2 linked regions of the Homo sapiens genome follow. The protein of the gene in region 1 purifies or fractionates together with the protein of each later gene. This does not show direct contact. Each region holds a gene or a part of one and is shown on either strand. Other genes may lie near its edges.

Evidence for each region. The genes of interacting proteins can lie anywhere in the genome.
Region 2: the proteins of PCDHGA9 (region 1) and TM9SF4 purify together in Homo sapiens (co-immunoprecipitation; 2 studies listed by BioGRID and IntAct, with this or other methods). This does not show direct contact.

What each region holds. Positions count from the first base shown.
Region 1 is NC_000005.10:141,398,731-141,405,781, forward strand, and holds the start of PCDHGA9 (protocadherin gamma-A9 isoform 1 precursor), read left to right. Parts: upstream 1-4,047; 5' UTR 4,048-4,222; coding exon 4,223-6,646; coding exon of another isoform or gene 6,647-6,709; exon of another isoform or gene 6,710-6,769; intron 6,770-7,051. Other genes in the region: PCDHGB5 (protocadherin gamma-B5 isoform 1 precursor), read left to right, coding at 1-1,794. UniProt on the Homo sapiens protein: Potential calcium-dependent cell-adhesion protein. May be involved in the establishment and maintenance of specific neuronal connections in the brain.
Region 2 is NC_000020.11:32,105,547-32,112,715, reverse strand, and holds the start of TM9SF4 (transmembrane 9 superfamily member 4 isoform 1 precursor), read right to left. Parts: upstream 3,003-7,169; 5' UTR 2,976-3,002; coding exon 2,961-2,975; exon of another isoform or gene 2,677-2,960; intron 1-2,676. UniProt on the Homo sapiens protein: Associates with proteins harboring glycine-rich transmembrane domains and ensures their efficient localization to the cell surface.

The DNA.
Region 1 (7,051 bases):
CGGGAACAACAGAGTTACCATCGTTTAGTCCTGACTGCCTTGGACGGTGGACATCCACCCCTAAGCGGCACCACTGAGCTCCGGATCCAGGTAACCGACGCCAATGATAATCCCCCGGTATTCAACCGAGACGTGTACAGAGTCAGCCTTCGGGAAAACGTGCCACCAGGCACCACTGTGTTGCAAGTGTCAGCCACTGACCAAGACGAGGGCATCAACTCAGAAATTACTTATTCCTTCTACAGAACCGGGCAAATCTTTAGTCTGAATTCAAAGAGCGGAGAAATTACCACTCAAAAGAAACTGGATTTTGAAGAGACCAAGGAATATTCAATGGTTGTAGAAGGGAGGGATGGTGGTGGACTGGTTGCACAATGTACAGTTGAAATTAATATTCAAGATGAAAATGACAATAGCCCAGAAGTTACATTCCATTCTCTACTTGAAATGATTCTGGAAAACGCGGTGCCTGGAACACTAATTGCTTTGATCAAAATACATGACCAAGATTCTGGGGAAAATGGGGAGGTTAATTGTCAATTACAAGGCGAAGTCCCTTTTAAGATTATCTCTTCATCCAAAAATTCGTATAAGTTGGTAACAGATGGAACCCTAGACCGAGAGCAAACCCCGGAGTACAATGTCACCATCACAGCCACAGACAGGGGCAAGCCGCCCCTCTCCTCCAGCATAAGCGTCATCCTACATATCAGAGACGTCAACGATAACGCTCCGGTTTTCCACCAGGCGTCCTACTTAGTCAGTGTACCCGAAAACAACCCTCCTGGGGCCTCCATCGCGCAAGTCTGCGCCTCGGACCTGGACTTGGGGTTGAACGGCCAAGTCTCCTACTCTATCATGGCCAGCGACCTAGAGCCTCTGGCACTGGCCTCTTACGTGTCCATGAGCGCGCAAAGTGGGGTGGTGTTCGCGCAGCGCGCCTTTGACTACGAGCAGCTGCGCACCTTCGAACTCACACTACAGGCCCGCGACCAGGGCTCGCCTGCGCTCAGCGCAAACGTGAGCCTGCGCGTGTTGGTGGGCGACCGAAACGACAACGCACCGCGGGTGCTGTACCCCGCGCTGGGTCCCGACGGCTCTGCGCTCTTCGATATGGTGCCGCGCGCTGCAGAGCCCGGCTACCTGGTGACCAAGGTAGTGGCCGTGGACGCAGACTCAGGACACAACGCCTGGCTGTCCTACCACGTGCTGCAGGCTAGCGAGCCCGGGCTCTTCAGCCTGGGGCTGCGCACAGGAGAGGTGCGCACAGCGCGTGCCTTGGGCGACAGGGACGCGGCCCGCCAGCGCCTGCTGGTTGCTGTGCGTGATGGTGGACAGCCGCCACTCTCCGCCACCGCCACGCTGCACTTGGTCTTTGCTGACAGCTTGCAGGAGGTGCTGCCGGATATCACTGACCGCCCTGTACCCTCTGACCCCCAGGCTGAGCTGCAGTTTTACCTAGTGGTGGCCTTGGCCTTGATCTCAGTGCTCTTCCTCCTGGCCGTGATTCTGGCCGTTGCCTTGCGCCTGCGACGCTCCTCCAGCCCTGCCGCCTGGAGCTGCTTCCAACCTGGTCTCTGTGTCAAGTCTGGACCTGTGGTTCCCCCCAACTACAGTCAGGGGACTTTGCCTTATTCCTACAACCTATGTGTTGCACATACAGGAAAGACGGAGTTTAATTTCCTAAAATGTAGTGAGCAATTGAGTTCAGGACAAGACATACTTTGTGGTGATTCATCTGGGGCCTTATTTCCACTTTGTAATTCCAGCGAGTCGACTTCCCATCCTGAGTTGGTGAGTTTCATTTATGTCTATTCTTTTTCATTACCCACCCAATTTTCTGTATTTACATGAAACTATCGTACATTTTCAAGTCCAATGAGTTGTCTTAGGGAAGTCAGAGCTGCTCAGAAAGCTGTCCTACCATTCTTTAAGAGGAGCAGTAAATTGTGAGTTTTTATGTCGCATAAAAGAAGTAGCCTTATAGATTTACAAAGTAGTGAGAGTTTGCTCTTAGCTTCCTCTCTAGCAAAAACATTTGGTGCGTTTTTTTGTCCTCTTTCTCAAAGCTAATGAATTTTACCTATTCGTTGTCTCATTCTTTAACATGTTTATATTTTATTGTATGTAGATAAACCATTAAATTTAATGTATGTAATCATTTAATTCATCTTTTAAAGCAAAGAAACTGCTAGTAGATGTCTTTCTTCACTGATTTCACTGGTAGTTTTCATCTCTTTCTTATGTTCCTCATATATGCTTTCTTATTCCTACCTAATGGATTTATGATTTTTTGAATCTCCTAAAATTTTATTAAAAATACTATATGTTGGCTGGGTGCAGTGGCTCATGCCTGTAATCCCAGCACTTTGGGAGGCCGAGGCGGTTGGATCACATGGTCAGGAGTTCAAGACCAGCCTGGGCAATATGGTGAAAACCCGTCTCTACTAAAAATACAAAAATTAGCTGGGTGTGGTGGCGGGCGCCTGTAATCCCAGCTACTCAGGAGGCTAAGACAGGAGAATTGCTTGAACCTGGCAGGTGGAGGTTGCGGTGAGCCGAGATCACTCCATTGCATTCCAGCCTGGGCAACAAGAGCAAAACTCCATCTCAAAAAAAAGGAAGGAGAAGGAGAGGAAGAAGAAGAAAAATACTACATGTTATGTGTATGAGAGAGAAAGAGAGAGACTGATTCACTGAACTTAGAAGGTCCAAATCATCCAAATAATTTTCTAAGTTTATCCAGGTTTTCTTGGATGCAAAATCCTTTTCCACCTCTATATAATTACCAGAAGAAACTTACAAAAAAAAGGAAATGCTATTGCCTGAATTTCTCTTGCTCGGAATCCTGACATATTCTTGAAGAAGGGGAAAAAGACACCGGATTTGTCTTATCGTTTGGAGCTTTAAATATAAATGACTGGATGTTTTCTCAACATCCTTGTAGGATGGAAGGTGAATACAGGATTATTCCATTTTTAAGACAAAAACTACTAGTCTTGTGTACATACAAAGCTCCCATTACATGGTATAAGTCTTTTGCTTGGTTTCCCTTAGTATGTGATTCAGTAAATGGGTTCCTTACAAAGTGCTGAGATTTCTTATAATACCACTTACTTTTAACCTTTCAGTAGTTTTCTTTGTTGTATATTTTGTGTTCTTTTTCCCAAATTATTATATAAGTTTAAGTGATGCTTAGAATAATGTTTAAGACCACTTTAAAATTGCATAATTTATTGATGAAGGATTAAAATAGAAACTTGCTTTTCAGTGTATATGCATTTGAATCATTGAAACACAGTCTGTGCATGCATTACATATTCACATTAAAAAACTAAGCATTTTTGAAATAGCAGAAAAGTTTAAGCAATTACAAAAATGTGAAAATTTCCAACTTTAATCCTGTTAATATTTAGCAATATTAGGCGAGAACATCTGTAACTATTGCTGAATTAATATTACTTTTATAATACAAAAATTTAAAATAAACGTTTTTCCAGGAATTTTATCATCAAAATAAACCCCAGAAAATAATTTCAAAGTGGATAATCTATCCTTATATATGTATTAATACAATTATATATTTTACATTTACAAATATATAGGTATAAAAATTAAAAATGAATGTACTTCCAAACAAGATTGCACATAAAAATTACTTCAGAAAATTGTTAAGATACACAGAAAAAATTGAAGCATCATAAAAAGGAAATTATAATAGTTTACATATCTAGAAATAGAGTGCAAAGTTCTACCAAGAATAAGAATAAATTAATATTAAGCAATGGTTTGTGATTTTATAATACACTTACAGAAATTTTATTCCACTTTATTTACAACTCAGATATCTAAAAAATAGATTGCTTTTGAAATACAAATGCAAGAAACAATTGGAGAAATCTAAAATCATAATTAGAAGAGAGTAGTGTTTTCTTTATCAGCCATCTGATATAATGTTACACATCAGTGGGTGTAGTAACGGCTTAGGACTCTGAGCGCCGCTGTTGATCAACTCTAAGCGAAAATCAGGACTCCATCCGGATTTCCAGTTCTGCGGCTACACAAAACCCGGCAGATACCACAAACCTGCTCCCAGGCTGCAGCAAAACTCAGCCTCTTTCTTCTAAGGAAAAGATCACCATACTTTGCAGGGTGGAAGAAAGAACCTGATGAAGCAGCGCGCACAGAGATCCTTTTGAGAAAATTCCAAAGCGAGGCAGCAATGGCAGCTCCAACCAAATGCCAGCTCCGCGGAAGATTAGTCCTGCTATGCTCGCTCCTGGGGATGCTATGGGAGGCCAGGGCCAGTCAGATTCGCTACTCAGTGCCTGAAGAGACAGAAAAGGGCTATATTGTGGGCAACATCTCCAAGGACCTGGCTCTGGAGCCCCGGGAGCTGGCGGAGCGCCGAGTCCGCATCGTCTCTAGAGGTAGGACGCAGCTTTTCTCTCTGAACCCGCGCAGCGGCACCTTGGTCACCGCGGGTAGGATAGACCGGGAGGAGCTCTGTGCTCAGAGCCCGCGGTGTCTGGTGAACTTTAAAGTCCTGGTTGAAGACAGAGTGAAACTGTACGGAATAGAAATAGAAGTAACTGATATTAACGACAGCGCCCCAAAGTTCCAGGCCGAAAGTCTGGAAGTAAAAATTAACGAAATCGCGGTTCCTGGAGCACGTTATCCACTTCCAGAAGCTATTGATCCGGATGTTGGCGTGAACTCCCTCCAGAGCTACCAGCTCAGCCCCAATCACCACTTCTCCCTGAACGTGCAGACTGGAGACAATGGAGCCATAAACCCAGAGCTGGTGCTGGAGCGCGCCCTGGACAGGGAGGAGGCAACTGCCCACCACCTGGTCCTCACGGCCTCGGATGGCGGCGAGCCGCGTCGCTCCAGCACAGTGCGCATCCATGTGACAGTGTTGGATACAAATGATAATGCCCCGGTTTTTGCTCAACGGATTTACCGAGTTAAAGTCCTTGAGAACGTGCCCCCAGGCACCTGGCTGCTTACTGCAACAGCCAGCGACCTGGATGAGGGAATCAACGGAAAAGTGGCATACAAATTCTGGAAAATTAATGAAAAACAATCTCTGCTATTCCAGCTTAATGAAAATACTGGGGAAATATCAACAGCAAAAAGTCTAGATTATGAAGAATGTTCATTTTATGAAATGGAAATACAAGCTGAAGATGGTGGGGGATTGAAAGGGTGGACAAAAGTGCTCATTTCGGTGGAAGATGTAAATGACAATAGACCTGAAGTGACCATTACATCTCTGTTTAGCCCAGTGAGAGAAGACGCACCTCAGGGAACAGTAATTCTTCTTTTCAATGCTCATGACCGAGACTCCGGGAAGAATGGTCAAGTTGTCTGTTCTATCCAGGAGAATCTATCTTTTACATTAGAAAATTCAGAAGAAGATTATTACAGATTGTTGACGGCCCAAATTCTTGACCGAGAAAAAGCCTCAGAATATAATATCACGGTGACTGCAACAGACAGAGGAACTCCGCCCCTGTCCACAGAAATTCACATCACCCTGCAAGTGACTGACATCAATGATAATCCACCTGCTTTCTCTCAAGCCTCCTACTCAGTCTACCTCCCGGAAAACAACGCCAGAGGTACTTCCATCTTCTCCGTGATTGCCTATGACCCTGATAGCAATGAGAATTCTAGAGTTATTTACTCCTTGGCAGAGGATACCATCCAAGGGTCTCCTCTCTCCACCTATGTCTCTATTAACTCAGACACTGGTGTGCTGTATGCTCTGTGCTCCTTTGACTATGAGCAGTTTAGAGATTTGCAAATGCAGGTGACGGCAAGTGACAGTGGAAGCCCACCACTTAGCAGCAATGTGTCATTGAGACTGTTTGTTTTGGACCAGAATGACAATGCCCCAGAAATCCTGTACCCTGCCCTCCCCACTGATGGTTCTACTGGTGTGGAGCTGGCACCCCGCTCTGCAGAGCCTGGCTACCTGGTGACCAAGGTGGTGGCAGTGGACAGAGACTCAGGCCAGAATGCTTGGCTCTCCTACCGCCTATTCAAGGCCAGTGAGCCAGGGCTCTTCTCGGTGGGGCTGCACACAGGTGAAGTGCGCACAGCTCGGGCCCTGCTAGATAGAGATGCGCTCAAACAGAGCCTTGTGGTGGCTGTACAGGACCATGGCCAGCCCCCTCTCTCGGCCACTGTCACGCTCACAGTAGCCATAGCTGACAGCATCCCAGACATCCTGGCTGACCTGGGCAGTCTTCAGATCCCTGCAGACCTGGAGGCCTCAGACCTTACCCTCTACCTCGTTGTGGCTGTGGCAGTCGTCTCCTGTGTCTTCCTCACCTTCGTTATCACGCTGCTGGCCCTCAGGCTGAGGCACTGGCACTCCTCGCATCTGCTGCGGGCTACCAGTGATGGGTTGGCTGGTGTGCCCACCTCACACTTTGTGGGTGTAGATGGGGTTCGAGCTTTCCTACAGACCTATTCTCAGGAGTTCTCCCTCACCGCTGACTCAAGGAAGAGTCACCTGATCTTCCCCCAGCCCAACTATGCAGACACACTCATCAGCCAGCAGAGCTGTGAGAAAAATGAGCCTTTGTGCGTCTCTGTTGATTCCAAGTTTCCTATAGAAGACACCCCTTTGGTTCCGGTGAGTTCATTTTTTTTCTTTCTTTCTTTTCTTTTTTTGTTTTTTGTTTTGTTTTGTTTTTGAGACAGAGTCTTACTCTGTTACCCAGGCTGGAATGCAGTGGTGTGATCTCGGCTCATTGCAACCTCCGCCTCCCAAATTCAAGCGATTCTCCTGCCTCAGCCTCCCAAGTAGAGTAGCTGGGACTAGAGTAGAGTAGCTGGGACTACAGGCCTCCCAAGTAGAATAACTGGGACTACAGGCACGTGCCACCACGCCCGGCTAATTTTTTGTGTGTTTTTAGTAGAGACGGGGTGTCACCATGTTGGCCAGGCTGGTCTTGAATTCCTAACCTCAAGTGATCCACCCACCTCAGCCTCCCAAAGCACTGGGATTACAGGCGTGAGCCACTGCGCCTGGCCCTTA
Region 2 (7,169 bases), on another chromosome or scaffold:
TTTTTGTTTTTTTTTTTTTTTTGAGATAGGGTCTCACTCTGTCACCCAGGCTGCAGTGCAGTGACACGATCTTGGCTCACTGTAGCCTCCGCCTCCCGGGTTCAAGCGATTCTTGTGCCTCAGCCTCCCGAGTAGCTGGGATTACAGGTGTGTGCCACCACACCCTGCTAATTTTTGTATTTTTAGAAGACAGGGTTTCGCCATGTTGGCCAGGCTGGTGTTGAACTCCTGGCCTCAAGTGATTTGCCTGCTTCAGCCTCCCAAAATTCTGAGATTACAGGCATGAGCCACTGCTCCCGGCCTGTTGTTGTTTCTTAAGACAGGGTCTCGCTCTGTTGCCAAAGCTGGAGTGCAGTGCAGTGATCAGGGCTCACTGAGGTTCAAGTGATCCTCCCACCTCAGCCCCGCAAGTAGCTGGTACTACAGGTGCACACCACCAAGCCCAGCTAATTTTTTCTTTTTGTATTTTTTTTGTAGAGGGGTTTGCCATGTTGTCCAAGCTGGTCTCAAACTCCTGAGCTCAAGCGATCTCCCAGCTTTGGTCTCCCAGAGTGCTGGGATTACAGGTGTGAGTCACTGTGCTGGGCAAAAATCACTGTCCCTTCCACTGTGCTTAGACTAAAATCCAAACTCCTTTCCACAGCCTCTGTGCCAACTGAGAACAAGCTGGCTCCCTTCAAGTACTGTCCTGAAGGGGATGGGAAGGGGAAGCAGCCTAATACAACACTATTTCAAAATGCAATCCACAGACAACAAAATGTAGACCGCAGTCCTTCCCATTTCCAGGCATGCTTCTCAAAACAGTTGCTCTTGCTTCCCTCCAGTTTCATCTTGTATCATTCTCTCCTACCCCAACCCTCATCATGCTTCGGCCCCTCCAGCCTTCTGTGTGTTCCTCAAAAACACCAAGCTCCCTTCCACATCGGCCCCTTACACTTGCCATTTCCTTTGCTTGGAACATTCTTTGCATGGCTGGTTCCTTCTTGTTAATTATGTTTTAACTCAAGTCACCTCCTCTGAGAAGACTTCTTTCTGACCACTCAATCCAAAGTAGTTGTGTCACCCAGTCACCCCTAATCACTATCACTTCATTTTGCTGTCCTCACAGCATCTACTGGTGACATTATTTTGTTCACGTATTTACTTGTTCACTGCCTGTCTCCTCAAACCAGAAAGGCTCCACAAGTGTAGGGACCTTGACCCTGTAATTCACAACTACATCCCTAGTTCCTGGAACAGAATTGGTACTCAAATATTTGTTGACTAAATAGATGTGTACCACATATATGTATTGCTAGCTTATAACCTCTTAAAAATCTCTGAACAAGGCAGGGATTTCCCAGTGCAGTGCCGTAAATACCACTTTACTCAATGTTTTCCTTATAGCAAGAGAGGGTGTGATTTCCTTTTAAGTTCTTACACTATCTCTGTTCTGAATGTGGTACCAGAATATATATACATATATGTAGGTTTCAACATACTACTTTGAGGATTTGCCCCACTCGTGGTTCAGCCTGAAGTCTGAAACCACAGAAACCAGGTAAGGCCATGAAATCTTTTTACCTGACCTCTGAAGTTCTAAATAAGGAATCCCTCATTAAACAAAGGTAAGTTCTCAGTCAGCTAAGAGAAGGAGGGAAAATTGCTACCAGTCAATAATATATCCCTGTTTGGAGAAAACCAACACCAAATTATTTAAGCCAGAATCTTCCTTTGCTAAAGTCAAATGTCATTTCCTTTTCTCTGAGTCTTCCTTGTCATTCACTCCCCGGACGAAATTATCTGCTGAGGAGGCAGTATGCAGGAAGACCCAGGAAATCATTCTGGACTAAGTGACTTCAATTTTAGTTCTGGTCTCTTGACAAGCAGAATTTGAACTAAACTTTTAGAAAAAGGGCCAGTCCTTCAAAGATTTACTTCCAAGGTTCTGCACCAGGAGCCCGCAAGCTCTGACCCAACTTCCAAGCATGGCTATTTTACCTCCACCCTCATCCACACACAGACTTCATCCCAACATATAGCTTCATAATAAAGAGCCTTCATCCCTAACGAGCTGTGTGGCCATGTTGGGGAATGGGAAGGAGAGCAGTGAGGTGGGGCTATTAGTGTTTTTCAAAACGTAGTTCACAGACCACCTCCACTATATAATCACTAGAGTGCTTATAAAAGGGCAGATTCCTGGGCATCACCTAGCCCTATGGAATTAGAATCTCTGGGAGTGGGGCTGCTCAGGAAACTGCATTTTTAGCATGCCTCCCCCTACACACCTCGAGATTCTTATGCACAGTAAAGTTTGAGAACCAACAGGGTAAAAGGTCCCTAAGAGAGGGGCAGGGAGTTGACTGAGAGAAGACAGGAAGGGCAGGGAAGCCTCTAGGGATGAAAGATGGGGGTGGGGTAGGTGAAGGCAAGCTCTGGGGTAGCGGCAGTCAAGGGGGTGCGCGATGGGGACAGCTATGAGTGTAAGTGAGGACAGGGCTCTGAAAAGGATCTGAGGCAGCGCTTGGGCTGGGAGGGTGGTCAGAGGAGAGGTCACATCTGCGGACTGGTTATGATGGTGGGGAGGCGGGGAGAGCAGGGTCTGGACGTGACGGGGAGGAGCAAGGATGAGAATAACGGGAGGGGGTCTTCAGAGGGGTCAGGACAGGGAGGTGAGAAATGGAAAATGGGGCTCACAGTGGGCGGAGACCAAAAGTAGAATGGGAACCGGCGAAGGCAGCAGCCGAGGTCTTCCTCCGAAACGGCGCCTCCCCCAAAACTCGGGGCCTTCACAAGCCTGAGTGCAGGGGCAGGGCCAGGGAGGTGGATTTCGGGGAAGACAAGCCCAGTCAGAGGTAGCCCTCAGGCCTGAGTCAGGGGTCCCGGAGGTGGCTCAGGGCCAGGCATGGGGTGCTGGAAGATCCTGGGATACCCCGGAGGGCCCCGCTCCAGCTCCCGCTCCCGGAGTCTCCTTCACTCACCATCGCCGTCGCCATCTTGGATCCACGTGTCGCCGTAATGACGTCAGCGGAAGTGGTGCTCCCTGGTTACGGAGTTTAACTCCACAAGGTGGTCGTCTGGCTTCAACCGCTCCTGTAGTGGCGGTCAGCAGAGGGGAAAAGGAGTCTTAGCTCCTGCTCGACAGTCTGGTCTGGGAAAGTAAGGTCGCTGATTAGGTGAAGAGAGAGAACGGTGTAACTAAGGAAGCCATATTAGCTCCTGGCAGAAACTGAGCCTCCCTTATTCCCGCTGCATTGTGGGTAATGGGGGTGTGCGAAAGTGCGCTCGTGCTCTCAGCGCCATCTTTACTACTGGCAGGAAGACCCATTGCCAGGGTTACCTGAGACCTTGATTTGAGGGAAAGGGTGGGCACTGGGGCTCCAAGAGCAGTACGACTCCAAGAATAATTTGTAATTATATATTTAAGTATTTGTTTGATTTTAAGTATTTGTTTGACTATCCTATATCCTCTTTAGTAGACTGTAATCCCCATGAGGGTGGACCCTGTTTTTTTGTTTGTTCGTTTTTTACCTTGCTCTTCCTCATTCCCATCTGTGAAATGGGAAGGGGGTTGGTTCATCATAGGCTTGTGATGAGGATTCAGTGACACAGTATTACATAGGATGTATTCAATAAATAATTGTCAGTATATGTTTATGTATACTCCTTTGGGCTTGTGGTAGATGCCCAATACATTATTTTTTAAATGAACGAGTGAAAACCAGCATATTCAGTGGAGGGAGATATCTCTGAATGTGGACGTCATGCACTAGCTTAGTGTGTGACTCCAGACAAGTCACGCAATCTTCCTAAGCCTCAGTTTCCAAATCTGTGAAAAAGAGACTCAAAGAATCATGGTATTAAGGTTGGGAAAGAACTCAAAGTTCATTTGACCCATGTATATCACTTTAAACTGAATACAGTACCAGTGCTATCTTAGACTGTTTTAAAAAAGCTATTAAAAGAATAATAATGATTAATAATAATCATCAGCACTTGCCGAGCATTTTGTGTGCTGCAGCACTTAGCATTATGCTAACAGTTCATTAGACTCTTTTTATCTAATTCTAGGGGGCAAGGGACAGTTGAACTCTGATCCCCACCTATGGGCACCACTGTGGTGGATTTTCTGCAAAGATGGCTGCCACGTAGTTCTGTCCGTCCTTGCATGATGAGCATACGGTTTCTCTCCTCAAGAGATAGACTCTGTTTTACCTCCTGTTGAATCTGGCTGGTCATGTTGGTTGCTTTGACCAATAGGATGTGCTACAAGTGATTCTGCCAGTACTGAGCCTAGGCCTTAAGAGGATTGAAAACGTCTGATTCTACCTTCTTGGTTATAAAGAAGTGTAGCTACTCTGCTGGAAAGGCACCTGGAGAGAGAGGGAGGCCCAGCCAACTCCTCAAGACATTCTAGAAACTACAGCTAAGCACTATAATATGTAACTGAAGTCATCTTGGACATTCCAACCCCCACTGAGCTACTAGCTGAATGCAGCTACATGAATAACCTCATGAACACCATGTGGACCAAAAGAACTGCCCAGCTAAGCCCAGCTTTAGAGTGGGGTGGTTTATTATAGATCATTTCAGTAATAGATCATTGAAACACACACCCATTAACTCTTGTGACCTGCACAACCATCCTGAAGATTGGCAGATTGGCTATTAACCCCAAGGAGGAGGAAGCTTGAGAGACTAGGGGGAATTTGCTGCAGTCTCATAGTTTCCAGACTTGGAACCAGTTTTCCTAGAGCTTCGATCCTGAGTGTTTCCCACCATTTCTAGCTGCCTGAAGAAAGATAACTGATAAGGAGCAAAGCTCCATAAATGGCCTATTATTTTTTAGTATTTCCATTTTTTTTCTCATGCTTTGTATTTTTCCCTAAAGGCCTTTCATATCCCAATCTCTTTTGGTGACATATGCCAGAATCCTAGAACTAGACTGCCTGGGTTCAGAACGCATTTCCACCACTCATTAGCTCCATAACATGGGCAAGTTTCTCTTTTTTTTCTGAAAAAAATTTTTTTTGAGATGGAGTCTCACTCTGTTGCCGAGGCTGGAGTGCAGTGGCGCAATCTCAGTTCACTGTAACCTCTGACTCCCGGATTCGAACAATTATCTTGCCTCAGCCTCCTGAGTAGCTGGGATTACAGGTGCATGCCACCAAGCCCGGCTGAGTTTTTGTATTTTTAGTAGAGATGGGGTTTCGCCATGTTGGCCAGGTTGGTCTAGAACTCCTGACCTCGAGTGATCTGCCTGCCTTGGCCTCCCAAAGGGCTGGGATTACAGGTGTGAGCCACTGGACCCGGCCTAAATATTTTTCATTGTTGTAAAATATGCATAACTAAATATTGACTATTTTAATCATTTTTAAGTGCACAAATCAGTGAAATCAACTACATTCACAAAGTTGTCAATCATTACCGTCATCCGTCTCCAGAACATTTTCGTCATCCCTAAAAATGAATATCCACATGCAAAAGAATGAAATTGGACCTTTATCTCACACTATATACAAAATCAATTCAAAATGGATTAAAGACTTATAGGGCCAGAAACTGTAAAGCTACTAGATGAAGACATAGGGAAAACTTGACATTGGCTTGGGCAATGATTTTTTGGATATGACACCAAAAGCACAGGAAACGAAAGCAAAAATAGACAGGTGGGATTGCATCAAACTAAAAAGCTCTGCACAGCAAAAGAAACAACAGAGTAAAAAGGTGACCTCCAGAGCTGAGGAAAATATTTACAAATCAAAAACGATCTGATAAGGGGTTAATATCCAAAATATATAAGGAGCTTAAATAACTCAATAGCAAAAAATCCCAAATAACCTGGTTTAAAAATGGGCAAGAGATCTAAGCAGACATTTCTCAGGAAACAGACAAATGGCCAGCAGGTAAATGGAAAGGTGCTCAACATCCTTAATCATCAGGGAAATGTAAATCGAAACCACAATGAGCAATCATTTCACACCTCTTAGAACCATTATTATCAAAACGACACATAATAAGTATTGGCAAGGATGTGGAGAAAAGGGAACTCTTGCATAAATTGGTACGGTCACTATGGAAAACAGTATGAATGTTCATCAAAATTAAAATTAAAAATGGAACTACCATATAATGCAGCAATCCCACTTCTGAGTATATATCCAAAAGGAAATGAAATCAATGTCTGCACCCCCGTATTTATTGCAGCACTATTCATAATAGCTAAGATATAGAAACACAGCAGCTGTAAACTATAATCTATGTTTAATATAAGTATATAACTATATATTTATAAATATAAAATATATATAATATTATATATAACTTTTTAAAAGGTTTATTTATCTATTTATTATTTATTTGAGATGGAGTTTTGCTTTTTGTTGTCCAGGCTGGAGTGCAGTGGCATGATCTTGGCTCACAGCAACCTCCGCCTTCCAGGTTCAAGCGATTCTCCTGTCTCAGTCTCCCGAGTAGCTGGGATTACAGGTGCCCGCCACCAAGCCAGGCTAATTTTTGTGTTTTTAGTAGAGACGGGGTTTCACCATGTTGGCCAGGCTGGTCTGCAACTGTTGACCTCAGGTGATCCACCCGCTTCGGCTTCCCGAAGTGCTGGGATTACGGGCGTGAGCCACCACTCCCGGCCTATTTATTTATTTTTGAATTTTCTTTTTGAGACAGAGTTTCACTCTGTCGCCCAGGCTGGAGCGCAGTGGTGCAATCTCAGCTCACTGCAACCTCTGCCTCCCAGGTTCAAGTGATTCTTTTGCCTCAGCCTCCCCAGTAGCTGGGGCTACAGGTGTTTGCCACCAAGCCCGGCTAATCTTTTTGTATTTTTAGTAGAGAAAGGGTTTCGCCATGATGGCCAGGCTGTTATCAAATTCCTGGCCTCAAGTGAGCCACCCATCTCAGCCTCCAAAAGTGCTGGGATTATAAGCGTGAGCCACTGTGCCCCGCTATTTATTTATTTTGAGACAGGGTCTCATTCTATCACCCAGGCTGGAGTGCAGTGGCACAATCACGGCTCACTGCAGCCTAGACCTCCTGGGTAGGTCTCCTACCTCAGCCTCCTGAGTAGCTAGGACTGCAGGCACCTGCCACCATGCCCGGCCAATATTTGTATTTTTTGTAGAGATGGGGTTTCACCATCTTGCCCAGGCTGGTCTCAAACTCTTGGGCTCAAGTGATCC